2 linked regions of the Homo sapiens genome follow. The protein of the gene in region 1 interacts with the protein of each later gene in a pairwise test. Each region holds a gene or a part of one and is shown on either strand. Other genes may lie near its edges. The genes, in order: CD300C and UNC93A.

Evidence for each region.
Region 2: the proteins of CD300C (region 1) and UNC93A interact in binary tests that used the Homo sapiens proteins (3 or more experiments, as listed by UniProt).

The regions. Positions count from the first base shown.
Region 1 is NC_000017.11:74,542,708-74,551,453, reverse strand, and holds the start of CD300C (CMRF35-like molecule 6 precursor), read left to right. Parts: upstream 1-5,338; 5' UTR 5,339-5,671; coding exon 5,672-5,732; intron 5,733-6,506; coding exon 6,507-6,845; coding exon of another isoform or gene 6,846-6,948; intron 6,949-8,216; exon of another isoform or gene 8,217-8,277; intron 8,278-8,466; coding exon 8,467-8,593; intron 8,594-8,746.
Region 2 is NC_000006.12:167,308,050-167,315,314, forward strand, and holds part of UNC93A (protein unc-93 homolog A), read left to right. Parts: intron 1-1,490; coding exon of another isoform or gene 1,491-1,729; exon of another isoform or gene 1,730-2,547; intron 2,548-7,137; coding exon 7,138-7,265.

The sequences.
Region 1 (8,746 bases):
GCGCACGCATGCACAGGTGTGAGTTGTGTTTGTGGTGTGTGTGTGTGCGTGCGCAGGTGTGGTGTGTGTGTGCTTGCACAATTGTGTGGTGTGTTTGTGTGTGTGCACCCGTGTGTGTGTGTGCTGACATGCACAAAAGCACATTTGCACCTGTTGTTGGAGACTCCTCTGTGTGCCCCACCCTGAAAGTGTCTGGCCTTGTGGGGCCACCAGCCTGGCTGACATTTGGGGTTGAGTGGACTCGGGTCCCATCATTCAGGGAGGGCCCCACTGACTTCCTGTCCTTACTTCCAGTTCACTCCAGCCACTGCCATGCCCAGGGCCCTGGCTCCGCAGTCACTCTAGGTCACGCTTCACAGAGTGAATGTCACCCCTCCCTCCTTGGCTGGGATGGGGTCTGCAGCCAGGTCTTCTTTCCACAGACTCTCACGTTCCCCTAGAGAGCAGGTTGACTCTTGCCTCTGAAAGTGCTCATCTGGCTATGAAGTACTTGGGGATAAGACTAGGGAGGGGCCCAGGGCCCTGGTCCGGCCTGCGTGTGGCCGTGGAACGTGTTGGACTCAGGGCATCTGTCCAGCATGTACTGAGTGATCGTGTCTGTGGAAATCAGAGCTGAACAGGTGATGATGAGTGGGAGACTCAGGCGAGGTCGCCGAGACTGACCTGTGATGCCCCTGCAGCCCTGACAGCGGCCTCCAGTCTCAGAGCTCCACGGGCACCTCGGGTCCTCCCGTTACGTCCCAGCGTGCACCTGGCCCAGCTCTACCAGACAGGACAGCCCTGATCCCAGCCCACACCCAGGGTAAGGTTCGTGCCCCCAGGACTGCCACCTGGGCAGCCTTTCCTGTAGGCTGGGGAGAGATGGGATGGTTGTGTCTCTCTTCTTCTGGTCCCTTCTTTGCTCACGCCTCCCACACCTAATGTGAAGGTCCTACTAAGTGCCAGGTGCTCCTGTCAGGATAGGGTCACAGCAGGGAACCACTCAGCCACAGTCCTGCTCTGGTGGAGTTTGGGTTCTACCAGGTGGATTCACACAGTGAACAGGTCAGCACAGTGGCTGACAGACAAATACAGCGAAGTTTGATGACTGCTGGGAAGAGATATTTGTGCCTTGGGTTTGGGGAGCATGTGTGTGGGTGTTGGAGTCGCTATTTCACTGACAATGATCAGAAGAGGGTTTGTGGATTAGAGGACATGAGCGTGGAGACCTGCAGGATTTGGGAGCAGGGCGCTCTGGGGTCTGGGGGAAGAGGGGTCCAGGCAGAGGGAGGAGTGAGGCAAATGTCCTGCAAGGGAGTCCTGGGACCCGGCCAGGCCAGGGCAGGGGGCAGATGTTTTGGTGCCCGGTGACCCCGGCCCTCTCCCCTGGCCTCCCTTGCAGCCCTGGCCCGAGTCTCATCCTGTTTGATGAGCCCAGTCCTCTGAGGAGCTGAGAGCTGAGCTGGGCCATTCATTCATTCCTTCCATTCCTTCAACAACCATGAATTTTACAGGCTGATATTTGCAACCAGAGGGCAGGTACCAGTTACTTGTGAATAACATGAATAGTCCTCACCTTCTCGGGAAATGATGGCCATACAGGCATCAAACTACATGACTGATTCCATGCGCCAGTGAATAACCCCGGGATGTAGAGATCTTGTGGGTGTGGTTCTCACCTGGATCCCTCCCTGTCCTCATGCACCATTTTCACGGCCACGTGCTTCCTTATAGGCAGTCCTGAGACTCCAGGGACTCTCAGGCTGAAGGTCAGGGTCTAATGATCTCTTTAGAGGAGTTGTCATATACAGAGTTTGTCCTCACAGGGATTTGTGTGGCCACAGGACCTGGGTTCACAGACAGGCAGAAGGTGGAGGGCACCTGGGCTTCCCCTGGGGAGATGACTCACTGCCATCACCGTGTCCCCACAGCTCCCTGTTCAGCAGCCCCTACGTCCTGCTCCTGGTCCTGGAGCTGCCCCTGCTCCTGAGCATGCTGGGTGCCGTCGTCTGGGTGAACGGACCTCAGAGAAGCTCTGGAAGCAGGCAGAGTTGGCCAGAGGGTGAGAACCAGTAGCATCTACTGTCCATCAAGGCCCTGCACTGCGACAGAACCCCTTTGCGGGACTGGAATGACCTCCTGACCACTCCCTCCCGGGCTGCTCTCTCCACATCTCCTGGAATTCTCTGTGAGCCTCCTTCAGCCTTTTCCCTGTGCCTGATCCATGAATCACACGTGAACCTGATGGACACAGACGCCCTGAGCTGTGACTCCATGTCTCATGTGCACGCCCTGGCCAGCTGAACCTCGAGCTGTCACCAACACCTCTAAGTGCCTGATGCCCTCTCTGCACCTTTCCATTTCTCCAGGAGCTTGGCATTGCTTCCTTCAACGTTTTCACAGGGAGGAGCAGGTCCAGGACTCCCCTGCACCTTTGCCACCATAATGGCCCACACTCCCCGGGTCCAGGAGTGCAGAATATGTGGCTGCTTCCATTTGCTGAGTGTGTCAATTCAATGATGCTTTCGAACTTTAAGAAATGACAATACATAGATTCTGGACCTATCATGCCCACTAAGTCAGACCTGGGTGAAAACTCCATTGTTCCCTGATCTCCACAGGCCTTTGCTCAGAATAGTGGACTAAGCCCCAGGCTGGGCCTCTCAGGACTGGGGTCCCTGCAGAAGAGGATCCAGGATTCCCCCCAAAACCTGACAATTCCGTTCCTTATGTAGACACATCCTGGCCAGTGTCTTCTGGTCCCTGCGGGAGGGCTGGTAGAAGATTATCAGTGTGAGTTGTGGCATGGTAGCCAGGCCTTTCCTTCCTCCTTCCTCAAGGGGACCTGACCTCCCCTTCATTCCAGGGCTGTGGCTTTTAACTGACTCAAATATGGAAATTGGTTGAGGGCCGTGACTTCTTAATGTGGTAGTTAACTGAGTCTTTTGCTTACTAGTGCAGACCATGTCTGCTTATCCAGACAAAGGAAGACGTTATCAGCTGACCATCGTTTCGGTTCCAGGGATGCCACACCCAAGACCCCTGTGAGGCAGATGATCCCCATGAGTCCACCAGGTCAAGGAGGGACACGCCTGGGGGTCCTCACCTATTTTTACATTCAGCAGATACTTATGGGAGCTTCTGGTGTATCAGACACTGACCTGGCATTGGAGTCCAGCCGTGAACACCCAGGCAAGGAGCTCTGTTTTCATTGAGCTCATATTCCAGGCGGGGGATAGAAATGATAAACAGATGCAAAAATACGTGCATAAATTCCAGAAGAAATATAAAAGTCAGAGATGAAAAGAGTCACGGAATGAAATAAGAGAAGTGGGGTGACTGCTGTGCAGGAGCTGAGGGGGACTGTGGTGAAGCCCCTCTAATAGGCGCTGAGCAAGCAGGGATCAGGAGAAAGGAGGGGGTGAGCGCCAGGATCCCTGGAGGAGGAGCCCTGAGGCAGAGAGAGGAGCAGGTGCACATGTCCTGCCAGGGGCAGATGCCTCCCTGGGTCAGGTGGCTTCAGGGCCTCCAGACAGCATTTCCTGTCTCCTCCCCAGCCTGGGCAGGAAATGGTGCACCAACTTTGGATGACTAAGTCCTCTGAGGCAGTGGGACATCAGGATGTCATGTATCCATTCACCCATTCATCCTTTCAACAGCCAGTTTGTTAAACTGCACTTGGCAGACTCTGGAATGATAACGGGCACAGCTGTGAATGAGACAAGAGGCTGCACCTGCTCTCAAGGGGCGGCCACCCTAGATGGGAGCAGACATTGACTCGCCAACAGAAAGACTGAGGAAGACGAGAGGGAAGTGTGAAATGGGTCATGAGGACCCCTAAAAAGCGAGCCACCATAACCCGGGAAGGTCAAGGAACACGCAGGCAACCCTGTCGGCTGGAGCCAGGCAGAGGAGTGGGAGGTTGAGGGTCTGGACAAAGGCCCGAGTGGGGAGGGTGGCAGCACCAGTGTGAACCTGGATCCAGGAGGCTGGAGACACCTACCAGGTGCTGGGGCCTGCCAGGACCTGTGTGCAGAGGCCAGGTCAGGTGGGTGCCATCCTGTGACAGCAGGAGCCATTGGGAGTTCAGCAGCGCCTCCCCAGGGCCATGTGTGTGTGTCAGGGATCACATTGCTGATTCTGTGGAGAATGAAAGGGGTGGGTATGAGCAGAAGGGGAGACCAGGTCAGCCCATGAAAGAGCCGGGATACTTCAAAGCCAGGCCCAGGCCAGACCTGAGCACTGGGCTAATTGGAGGCCCTGGGATTGCACTGGGCTAGAGATAGTCCCATGATGTGAGTCTGGGGGCATCAACACCAATGACCCCAGTGCATGCTGTGTCCCTGAGAGTGTAAATGGAGGGAGGACAGGGCAGGTCGAGGGTGCAGAGACCCCTTCATGGTGCCAGGTTTGCCCAGACTCCCATCACTCTCCACTCAACCTCATGGCTGTGTGCACATACTGGTGCTATTGACTCTGATAGGAAGAAAGGAACAGAAATCTGTAGGAGGGTTGGGAGAGTCAAGGAATATGCTTAAGGCATGAGAAGGTGGAGAAGGGGTGATGCCCTCCAGGACAGACAGGAGGTAAATCCTGTGTCTGACTAGCCTCCTTGCCCTTTCCAGGGTAAAGACACCCTGAGCCCATCACGTCAGGAGAACCAGCCATGCCGAGTGTGGATAGACCTGGGTTCCCGCCTCCTGGGAAGGCCTGTCTGCCATGTCTGCTCCCTGCGGAGGCCCCTGGCCATCACAGTGGACCCAGGATAGACACCAGCAGCCGCTGCTCATGACAAACTGTCCTCTCAGTCACCAAACACCCCTCCGTGTGCCCTGGGGTGTGTGCTGGCTCAGTCGCAGCCTCACATCCTCCACAAAGTCCCACTTCAGCATCTTCACATGTCTGAACTCTCTCTCTATTCTCAGTTCTCTGCCCTGATTCCCACTGGGGCATGGATTTTGGCAAGAAGACAAGATGGAAAAGGAGGGTCTCGGGTGGGTGATGCCGCTGTGTGTGTAGGTCTGGGGGCAGGGGCACAAGAGGAAAACTCCCCAAGCCTGTGGGATTTTAACCTGGTTGGGGACTCAGCACCAAAAAGGGACATGCAGATGGTGTCTGGGTTCATAGCGCTAACTTCTGAGGCCAGAAGAAGAGCTGGGGGTCTTAGGGGCAGAGGTCTCTGCGGGGACCTAGCTGAAGATTAAGGGACACAACCTCTCTCTGGTCACCTCCAAGGCTAAAGAAGGTGGCAGATTTAGCCTCCAACCACAAGATTGTCCATCCTGACCAGGAAGTGACATGTCACAGAGGGTGGAGCAGCCCATGTGGTAGGAAATGGCCCAGCTTGGCTCTGCCTTCTGCAGTGTGAGTAACACACTGAAGCCAGAAGCTGTGGGCTGTGGGGAAGTGGCTGCATCGCCACCCAAGGGACCCTGGACTTTGCCAGACGTCAGGGTTGAGAGGAGCCACTAGCACCATCCCAGAGCTGTCAGCACCGGCCTCAGCCCAGGCGGCTCTCTCCCTGAGCTTCCTGTACCCTGACCCTCTCCAGCCTCAGACCTGAGACAGGGCTGGACAAGGAAGCAGAGAGCAGAAGAAAAGCAGAAGCGAAGCTCAGATCTGCTGGGAGGAGATTACATTTTGTCCCCTCCTGGGGTCTTGCACAGTGGCAGGTGACATTCGTGTTACAGGAATGACTGCCAGGGCCTGGGCCTCGTGGCGGTCTTCAGCTCTGCTCCTCCTGCTTGTCCCAGGTGAGTGGGCCGACCCTGGACTTGGGGAGCTCTGTCCTGAGTGGGAGAGGGCAGGGAGGGGTGCAGGCGCTGGAGTAGCGGTCATAGAGGGGAGTGGGGCAGGGAGAGGGGAGGAGGGCAAAGGAGCACCCAGGAGCGGTCAGCAGCTGCCTCACCAGGGGACAGCAGGCGGCAGGGCACAGCACGGGGGAGGCCTATTCCTCTGTGCCCGAGACAGGAAGCCCTGGTGGGAGGTGATGCTGTGACTGTCATTGCCAAAGTTATCCAATCACAAATTTTATCTGGGACGATCACACACACAGTCACACTCACACGCACACACGGTCACACTCACACAGTCTCACACACATGCACACACAGTCACACTCACACAGTCTCACACACACATGCACACAGTCACACATGCACACACAGTCACACTCACATGCACACACAGTCACACATGCACACACAGTCACACACAGTCACACTCACACAGACAGTCACACTCACACAGTCACACACACAGAGTCACACTCACATGCACACACAGGCCCGCACACACCCAGTGTTTCCCTAGCCTTGCCTTTCCAGTCTCCATGGAAACTTCCCATGCCCTTCCCACCTCTGCACAGAGGGAGCCTCCCACCCTCAGTCCCTGTTCCTGGGTGGACAAAGGCTGCCTGCCTGCCATTGCCTTCTCCACACGCCCAGGGTCCATGAGGGGCTGACACTGCGGCACCCCTGACCAGGCCCCTCTGGTAAGGAGACAGGATTTTGGCTTGTATTTTTCAGGCTATTTTCCTCTGAGCCACCCCATGACCGTGGCGGGCCCCGTGGGGGGATCCCTGAGTGTGCAGTGTCGCTATGAGAAGGAACACAGGACCCTCAACAAATTCTGGTGCAGACCACCACAGATTCTCCGATGTGACAAGATTGTGGAGACCAAAGGGTCAGCAGGGAAAAGGAATGGCCGAGTGTCCATCAGGGACAGTCCTGCAAACCTCAGCTTCACAGTGACCCTGGAGAATCTCACAGAGGAGGACGCAGGCACCTACTGGTGTGGGGTGGATACACCGTGGCTCCGAGACTTTCATGATCCCATTGTCGAGGTTGAGGTGTCCGTGTTCCCGGGTGAGCCCCTCCTTTTCTCAGCACCAGGCCTGCCTGAGCCTAGGGCTGGTCATTCTGTCCCTGAAGAAAGAAGTGGAACAGGAGGGTGTGAGCCTGGGGGTTGGTGAGTCAGGACACTGTGTGCCGCTGTGTGTGGATGAGTGTGAGTGCGTCTTTGTGTATGCGTGCCTGCATAGGAGTTGTGGTGTGGTTTGTGTGTGTGTGCACCTGCATGTGTGTGTTGGGAGGGTGGGCGCCCACAAAAGCACCCTGGCCCTGTGGCTGGAGACCCCCCGCTGTGGGCCCTCCCTCACGGCCTCAGGCCTGAAACTTTCCTGGGTGGGGTCTGTGAGGCCACCCCTGACTCTGGGGTCCTTGCTACCTCCCTGTATTGACAAGGGCCGGATCCATACTGAAGGGTGCCCACTGTCCCGCCTGGGTCTAACTCGCTCTTCCCCACGGGGAATTGGACCCCCCCATCATTGGCTCCTCTCACTCAAGGCTGCCCCTGCCCTGGGGCCTGCATGGATGCCGCCCTGTCTGGAGGGTCCTGAGGCCGCAGCCTCACAGCCCTGTCCTGGGAGCTCCTGCAGCAGCCACTGGAGGACACAGGAAGGAGCCCCAGAGCCCTGGGTGGGGTTCTCATGCTCCTGGGAACCACATCCTGCCCCTGAGGCTGACCTGTGTGTCCCCCTTATTCTCTGGCACCTTTTACCACAGGAGGGAACCCCAGAAATTGCCCCCTCAGGCAAAGGGACCTGTGGATGGAAATGAGCTGAGACTGGCACGGACCTGAGGGCCCTTTCCCGTGCCGAAGATCATTCTTCCCTCAAAGGCCCCCTCCTGTCTCACAAGACACAAACCCAGTGGCCTCAGTGTGGTTGCTTTTCCATCGTTTTCTTCTGACAATGTCCCAGGTTCCTCGGAGCATCTTCTTGTTCTCCATTTCCCCGGGGGCGACGTGTCCCTCCTGCGCCCTTTGTGCCTTCCTATCTAGGAGTGAGGAGCTAAGATCCCACCTGAGGGCGCCAGGGAGAGGAGGAAAGGGCCCTTATCCAGCTGTATTCACCACGGGCCGCCGCCCAGGCTTCACCGGGCATCCCCTCTCTAGATCTTTCTTCCTGGGCATTCCCTCCTGCTGAGAGGATGGTCCAATGGCCTTGTGGGGCCGCAGCATGGCTGCCATTTGGGGCTGAGTGGACTCGGGTCCCATCGTTCAGGGAGGACCCCACTGACTTCCTGTCCTCACTTCCAGCCTCTCTCCAGCCACTGCTGTGCCCAGGGCCCTGGCTTCGCAGTCACTCTGGGTCACCCTTCGCAGAGTAAACATCACCCCATTCCCCCAGGTCACCCTGTCCCTCCCTGGCTGGGGTGAAACCTGGAGACCCGTACCTTTGCCACAGGTGAGCAGGGCAGCTCTCACATCTGAAATGGTGTCCTGGCTCTGCAGTACCTAGGGATGGGACAAGGAGAGGCCCAGGACCCTGGTCAGGCCTGGGTGTGGCCGTGGGGCATGATGGATGCAGGGCATCTGTCCAGCACATCATTGGTGACCTTGTCTGTGAAAATTGGAGCAGAACAGGTGAGAGTAAGTGGGAGACCCATGTGATGTCATCAAGGTTGACCTGTGTTTCACCCACAGCCGGGACGACCACAGCCTCCAGCCCCCAGAGCTCCATGGGCACCTCAGGTCCTCCCACGAAGCTGCCCGTGCACACCTGGCCCAGCGTGACCAGAAAGGACAGCCCCGAACCCAGCCCACACCCTGGGTAAGGTGCCTGCGCATAGGACTGGGCCACGCTGGCGGCCTCCCCACTGCGTGTGATGTTTAGGGGACTCGGATGTCCCTTCTTCCAGTCCCTTCTTTGTTCGCACCTCCCACACCAAACGTGAAGGTTCTATTAAGTGTCAGGCGCTCCTTT
Region 2 (7,265 bases), on another chromosome or scaffold:
TGATGTCGCCTCTGAGTCTGATGTATTTTCTCTGAGCATTTATTCAGATTCATGATGCAAAACTGGAAAACCACCCAAGGTTCCTTCTGGGCACCATTCCCTCAGGATGATGTGGTTTTGCTTAAGTCAAGTCGCCCATTCGAGCTGGGGTGCAAGACTCTCTACCCCTAGGACAGCAGTCTCTTCATGACTGAAAACCTTTATTCAGATGTGCTTGTGAGCAGAGGCACACTCCCGTGTACCTGGGCCTGGGGTGTAAACATGCAGAGCCTTCCAAGGAGCCCACGGGACGATGGGAGGTGGCAGTGTGAGCCACAAGCCACACACATCACAGGTCACTAGGGTCAGTGTCTGTGGACGGGGCTCTGGGGCATCCTGGGCAGTGGTGGGTTTTCTGGGAGCAGCAGGTGGGGGCCCTGTGGATGTGGGGGAGCAGGGGAGGCCAGGGTGGGCTTCCTCCTAGAGGCTACATCTGCATCACGTATGGGCTGACCACTGTCCAGGTGGGGTGGGGTGCAGGAGGAACCAGGGCAGGAGGTGGCAGGGATGCTCCAAGGCCTTGCTGGGGCTGGGGCCCCTAAGAAGGCGGCCTGGGGGGAGTGCAGAGGAGTGGGGTGGAGTGGCAAGTCGGGTCCCCAAGTGTGGGGCCAGCATGTGGGGGAGGGTCAGATGCACCTAGGTCACTGGAAGCAGCAGAAAGCGCTGACACCCAGGAGTGACTGGGAGCTATGTGGAGTCGGCCCCGTGTCACAACAATCAATTCCAAAAGGCAGGTGACAAGGTCCAAGGTGCGGCCCTGTGGGGAGCCGGGAGGGCTGGTTGTCGGATAGAAGGTGACATCCCATGATGATGGCAGGAGCCAAATGCCAAAGTCCTCACAGAATAGGGTGGCCTGGCCAGGAGGTCAGGCAGGGCAGTGAGGACACGGATGGGAGATGAGCGGGAGCCAAGGAGCCAAGCAGGAGCCAGGGAGGAAGGGGCCCCAGGCTCAGGCAGCTGCACTAGAGAGGCCTGAGGGCAAGAGAGCTGGAAGGGGACATGGCCGTTGCACCTGTAATCCCAGCTACTCGGGAGGCTGAGGCAGGAGAATCACTTGAACTCCGGAGGCAGAGGTCATAGTTAGCCGAGATCGCACCACTGCACTCATGCCAGGCTCTGCTGAGCTCCGAGGTGCTTTGTGCGGGCTGGCTGTGTTTTCCACAAGGAGATGCGTGAGAGCGTTTTGGAGGAAGGTCACTAGGAAGAGAAGGAAGCTGGGGCAGTGTGTGTGGCCGCTTGCCGGAGGGTGTGCGTACTGGGTGGTGTTGAAAATGACACAGATGAGGACTTAGGGTAGGAACCCTGAATTTCCCAAAAAACCCCATCTAAGGCCCCGAGGGGTGTCAGAGGCCCAAAGAGGCAAGACTGCGTGTCTAAGAGATGCTGATGAGGTGAGATGAAGTGTCCTCTCGGAGGTGAGCATGGCTCACATGAGACCCTCTTCCCTTCAGGAGAGACTTCACCATTCTGCCTTTATCTGGGAAACACTCGGGGCTTAGAAAATGGAAAAAGCAAACCCACAAACGAACTACAGGCCAATGTTTCTGAGATGACAGACCTGGCTGCTGTCCCTGCACTGAGGATAAAGAGCACATGTGACCTCAGATCGCGGACAGAACACTCCAGCCACGTCCTTTCTTGTCTTCCTGGTGGGTTGCGTATCCACAGGACAGCTGAAAATCACCTTTGAACAAACCCACACTGTTGGATTTAAGGAGCCGTGTTTCACAGTCCTTTCTGCTGCCCCAGTAATGCAGGTGGACCTAGTGAAGCTCTTCACCAAAATGCGTGTGTACTTGGCCCAGCGCCACACTCTGGCTTGTTGGGATCAAGGCCTGGAGGCTGGAAGGGGTAGACTGGACCCGAGGCCAGGCCGGGGCATTGCTTAACAGAACAAATACTGATTTAATGGAGGGGAGACAAACAGCAACTCACTTTGGTGTTCTTGGCAGTGCAGAATTATAAGCTAGTGGCATGTCACCTCGCTGCAGGACTCTTAGCTACGTTACCAATAAGCATCAAACAGTATTTGTTTAAACTGTCCCCTGGATGTGTGGCAGAGCCGGTGTTTCACTGAGCTCCCCAAATGCACATCCCATTACCAGAAGTGCACCATGACTTATCTGAACTTACATGAATTTTAAAATGTATTTACACATTAAATGAAAAGGAGAACACTGGGACAAATATCCCCACAATATTCCATACGATAATTCCCTAAATGCTCCCAATGAATGTGATCATTCATATTTGGTTTTTGTTCTTCCTGAGCTATGTGAACAGTGGACTTAACTCTCCTTTTCCTTATATGGACACATGATACTCTCAGGGAAAGCCTTGTTGAATTGTGCAAACAAAGTTACCTAAGGTCAAACAAAGAGTATCAACGTCCAAGTCCGGTGAATGACTGGAATAAAGACTCCCTTTAATAAGGGATGCTAATTTAAATTGAAACTGTTTCTGTCTTTCTGTACAGGAAAAAGTAATTTTTTTCAAAAATAAACCAAACTGGCCGGGTGCGGTGTCTCACCCCTGTAATCCCACCACTTTGGGAGGATGAACCAGACAGATCACTTAAGCTCAGGAGTTCAAGACCAGCCTGGCCAACATGGTAAAACCTCATCTCTACTAAAAATACAAAAATTAGCCAGGCGTGATGGCACATGCCTGTAGTCTCAGCTACGAGGGAGGCTGAAGCTGGAGGATCACATGAACCTGGGAGGCAGAGGTTGCAGTGAGCTGAGATCACGTCATTGCACTGCAGCCTGGGCGACAGAGCAAGACTCTGTCTCACAAAAAAAATGTTGGGGAAAATATTTTCATATACTTGAGAAGCTCCTGTGGACTTTATACTCGCAATCGTCATGCGTGAGTGGCATTTTAGTGCCGCGTTCCTGCACTCCTGGCAGGCTGGCTCTCCATGCAGCACAGCACACACACAAGGTCTCTGTTCTCTATTTTTTGAAAAAACTGGAAATTTTATGTAGCTTTGGCTACATCTCAAGAACAGCTCTCTTCATTTTTGTTTTTCTAAGTAGCAAGTTAGATTTCTAATCCTATTCTCCCCAAATGTATGCTTTCCTTTAAGAACATATGTGGACCACGTATGTTCTTAATTAACGACACCGAATAAAACCCAATGCACTTTGTCCTCACCTTTCAGTCATCACTGCTCAATTTAAAGACTGGTCCTTACAGTCTCCCACTTAGAAGCAGGTCAGAAGACTTCACCATTTGAGCCCCTCCTTCCTGGGCCAGAATTGAGGATCCCTGGCTCACTGTCCCACTGGGCTCCAGCCATCCCCTGGCCTCTGCAAGGGGAGATCTGTGCCAGGCACTCCTCTCTGCTTATTCCCTCAGACAGCTAATGAAAGATGGGTGCAGTTGCCATGGCAACCCTTCCCCGCCAATGCGCTGCCATGAAGATACAGAATGTCTAGTCTAAAAATACTCTTTTGCTCTGTTGGCTGTTTTCAGGGTGATAAACTCAGAAAATCTCACTTCTTCAGTGCCCTATTCACTTAACCTGTCTTCTCTGACTAAACAAGATTGCTGGACTTCTCATCCACATCCTGGTCTCTTTAACCCTGGGCCACCTGGGAAGAGGAGGCAGACAGGCCAGGCTGAGAGCAATGCTTTGTCTTTCTAAATACAGCTTTTATTTTGAAATAGTTTTAGATTTACAGAAAAGTTGCAAATGTAGTACAGAGAGTCCCCTTGAAAGGTACCAACCTATAGATCCAATGCATTTACCCCGTAGGCCCTGTGCCAGCTTCCCCAAATGCTGAGCATCTCACAGAGCCACGGCACATTCGTACAGCTAGGAAGTAACGCTGCCATGTGACAGTTAGTGGGGGGACAGCCTTTATTTGGGTTCCTCCAGGCTTCCCACGAGGGTTCTTTTTTCTGTGCCAGGATCCTGTCCTGGATTCCCTGTTGGACTCAGTCATCGTATCTTCTGGCTGCTCTGTGACAGCTTTTCATTTTCCTTGTTTTTCATGACCTGGACCCTTTTGAAGAGCACCGTAGTCTGTAGGCTGTTCCTTAATTTTGGTTTGTTTGCTGTTTTCTCATGATTAGGCTGGGGCTGTGGGTTTGCGGAGGACAGCTCCCTGGTGAGGCACTTTCTTGTCCCGTCATATGGGGGATACAGGACAGGGACAGGCCTCCTCACCAGCGATGTTAACCTTGATCCCGTTGGCTCCGTGGTGCCGGCCACATCTCTCCACTGCAAACCCACTGCCTTCCCTTTCCACACGCGGTTCTGCGGGAGCGAGTGCCCAGGGAGCCAGCAGTCAAGAAGACAGCAGCTAATCTCCACCCTGAGGAATGTCTATGTGTACTCTGTAATTCTTCCATAAAAAACGCCTGTCCCTTCTCCCCGATGTATTTATTACTCAATCATTGATCTGCATCAGCATGGGCTCGTATATTTACTCTACACTTTGGGTCACCATCCAACACCACATTATTTCTTTATTAAGGTGGTAAGACACGGGGCTTATTCTAGCCCCCACTGCGTAGCTGTCGCTCCATTCTCCGGCAGCCAGAAGCCTGGTTCCCACTAGGTATGACTGCTTCCTTATGTGTTCAATCTTTTACATGTGTACAGTCATTTCAGAATTGTTGAAATACCATTTTCAGTCTACTTTCCTTTTTAAAAAATGTCTTTCCCCACTATGTCCTTAGCTGTGGGTAGTTCCATGCAATTCAAAACAATAAATGCATTGCTTTCTTTATGTTTGGATTAAAATAGGAACCAAATCTTGAGTAATTCCCTGAAAAGCCTGAGTTTAATTATCACTGGCATTGGCCTCTCCTCCCCTAGACTGGGCTGATGTCATCCACACGTGTGGCTTCCCCTTTCCCGAGTGGGACAAACGGTTTCCCCTGATTCTTCCTCCGTGTTTCTTAAAGGCAGTTCCAGCGGCTTCATCTGGGTCCTAGGCGTCTCCCTCTGTGGGTGTGGACCCTGCTTCTGTGGGTAGAGCTGGATTAGCAGACAGGCAGGAGTGAGGGTGTCACCTCTGTCTGGGGCCACACCTGTCTTCTTTGGCCTCCTCCATTCTGTTTTGTGGCCAGGGGACAGCCCACTTTCCAGCCACCTTCTGGGTCCCCAAGTCCTCCATGCTGGGGAACCTACTGTCTCCCAAACACATCTAGGTGATTTTGAACACAAGTATGTGAGCTAGAAGACAGTCTAGCTCTTTCTCTCTTTGTTGTAGATCTCCTCACTAGGTCCAGATTTTGGAACCAGAGTCAGAGAATGTCAAGTTCTTCATGTGACATGTGAGGCATTGAGGGCCCGGAAAGTTTATGTTTATGGAAAAACTCAGAGGGCCGAGGAGAACATGGCTACTTATGAAGAAGCTGAATTGGCCTTGGACCAACCAGAACTTGACGAAGGGAGATGGTGGGGGGGCTGGGGGAGTGGAGTGAGTCCCTTTCTTGGAGGACAACGATTTCTAATCACGGCAGCACAATATAAATTTCATCTTGAAATTCTTGAATGACAGCAACCCATATTCCCAAAAAGTTAGCTTAAAATTAGAGTTGCCTGTATTACTAGAATATTTATAATCTGGGTCCATTGGCTCTGGTTTTCCGACCTGCCCAGGGTGTAGCCGGGAGCTTTTAGCCACAGAACATGGCATGATCTACCACTTATAGCCATGGTGTCTCAACTTGGATTTTCTTCCCTAGAACCTTGGTTTTGGATCCCATGCTAACAGTCACCATCAAAAAACAGACAAGAGGTGTTTAGAATAGTCTCAGAAGCCAACTAAATCAAAATTTGGTTATTCAGTTCTCTTTGGTCATTACTTTTATTAAGGTGGACAATGTGCAGACTGTGGGACAAGAAGGGTGCCTTGTCCTGAGGCTTCCAAAGAGCTTCTTGTTTCCCAAACATCCATGAGCTGTTGACAGTGTGAATCTTAGGGCTCTAGCAGGGCACTCCCCTGCTGTAAGCGCATCTGCGTTGGTCTTCAGCAGTAGAGGGAGCATTCATGATGTGAGTTGTTTCGTATAAAACTCATTAACACATTTAGTGCTGGGCCTCCCCACACACGGCATTGTCTCCAGCACTAAGGGAGGGGTGGGCAGAGCGAATCTTCGGCAAGACGGTTCTTTCCACACTCCTGTGTGTCTTGCGCTGAACCAGGTGCCATGGAGTTTACAAAATTAAATGCCATCCTCCCTGCCTCAAGGACCCCATGGCTGGCAGTCTGGAATCCTCCTGGGGAACCACATGCTTCTGCCCCTGGTTTCAGGCCCTGCTGCCTGCAGTTAAGGTCACCGCACACCCTGCCTCACCGGGGCTCAGGCTGCCACTGTCCCTGCTCCTGTCCCTGCCCCCCACCTGCCTACTTCGCCTCAGGCTGTGGAGGGTTTTCCTGGGTCTCTGTGGCCAGCAGCCTGGGTGGAGCCCCAAAAGGAGCCCTGTGTTTAAATCACAAGCAGGAAAATCCTGGGGCTCCAAAATCCCTAAGCTAAAGGGAAAAGTCTAGCTGGGAACTGCTTAGCACCAACGTGCCTCCCGTTCTATTCAAAGTCACCCCTCTGCTCACTGAGAGAAATGCAGATCTGATTGTTTCCTTTGAAGAGGCTAATCAGAAACTCAAAAGAATGCCACCATTTGTCTCTTATCTACCCGTGACCCGGAAGCCCCCTCCCTGCTTCCAGTCTTCCTACCTTTGCTTGGAGTTGTCTTGCCTTTCTGGACAAAACCAATGCTCATCTTAACCAAACCAATGTTCATCTTACGTATGTTGATTGATGTCTCATGTCTCCCTAGAGTGTATAAATCTACAGTGTGTTCTGACCACCTTGGGCACATCTCGTCAGGACCTCCTGAGGCTGTGTCACGGGCACCGGTCCTCAACCTGGGCAAAATAAACATTCTAAGTTAACTGAGACCTGCCTCAGGTTTTCGGGGTTCATGCTATCATCTGGCATGTAAAATCATTCTGTTGTGAAAAAAGAAAAATGTCTTGATTTAGTTGAGAAAATGGGGCAGTGGGAAAGCTGTGCTCTTTTCACAAACAGGGTCACTGTGGGGCCCATGGCAGAGCTCTCACTCCGCTCTCTCCTCTGCAGCTCTCTACGGCGTTCTGTTTGAGAAGAGCAAGGAAGCTGCCTTCGCCAATTACCGCCTGTGGGAGGCCCTGGGCTTCGTCATTGCCTTCGGGTACAGCATGTTTTTGTGCGTGCACGTCAAGCTCTAC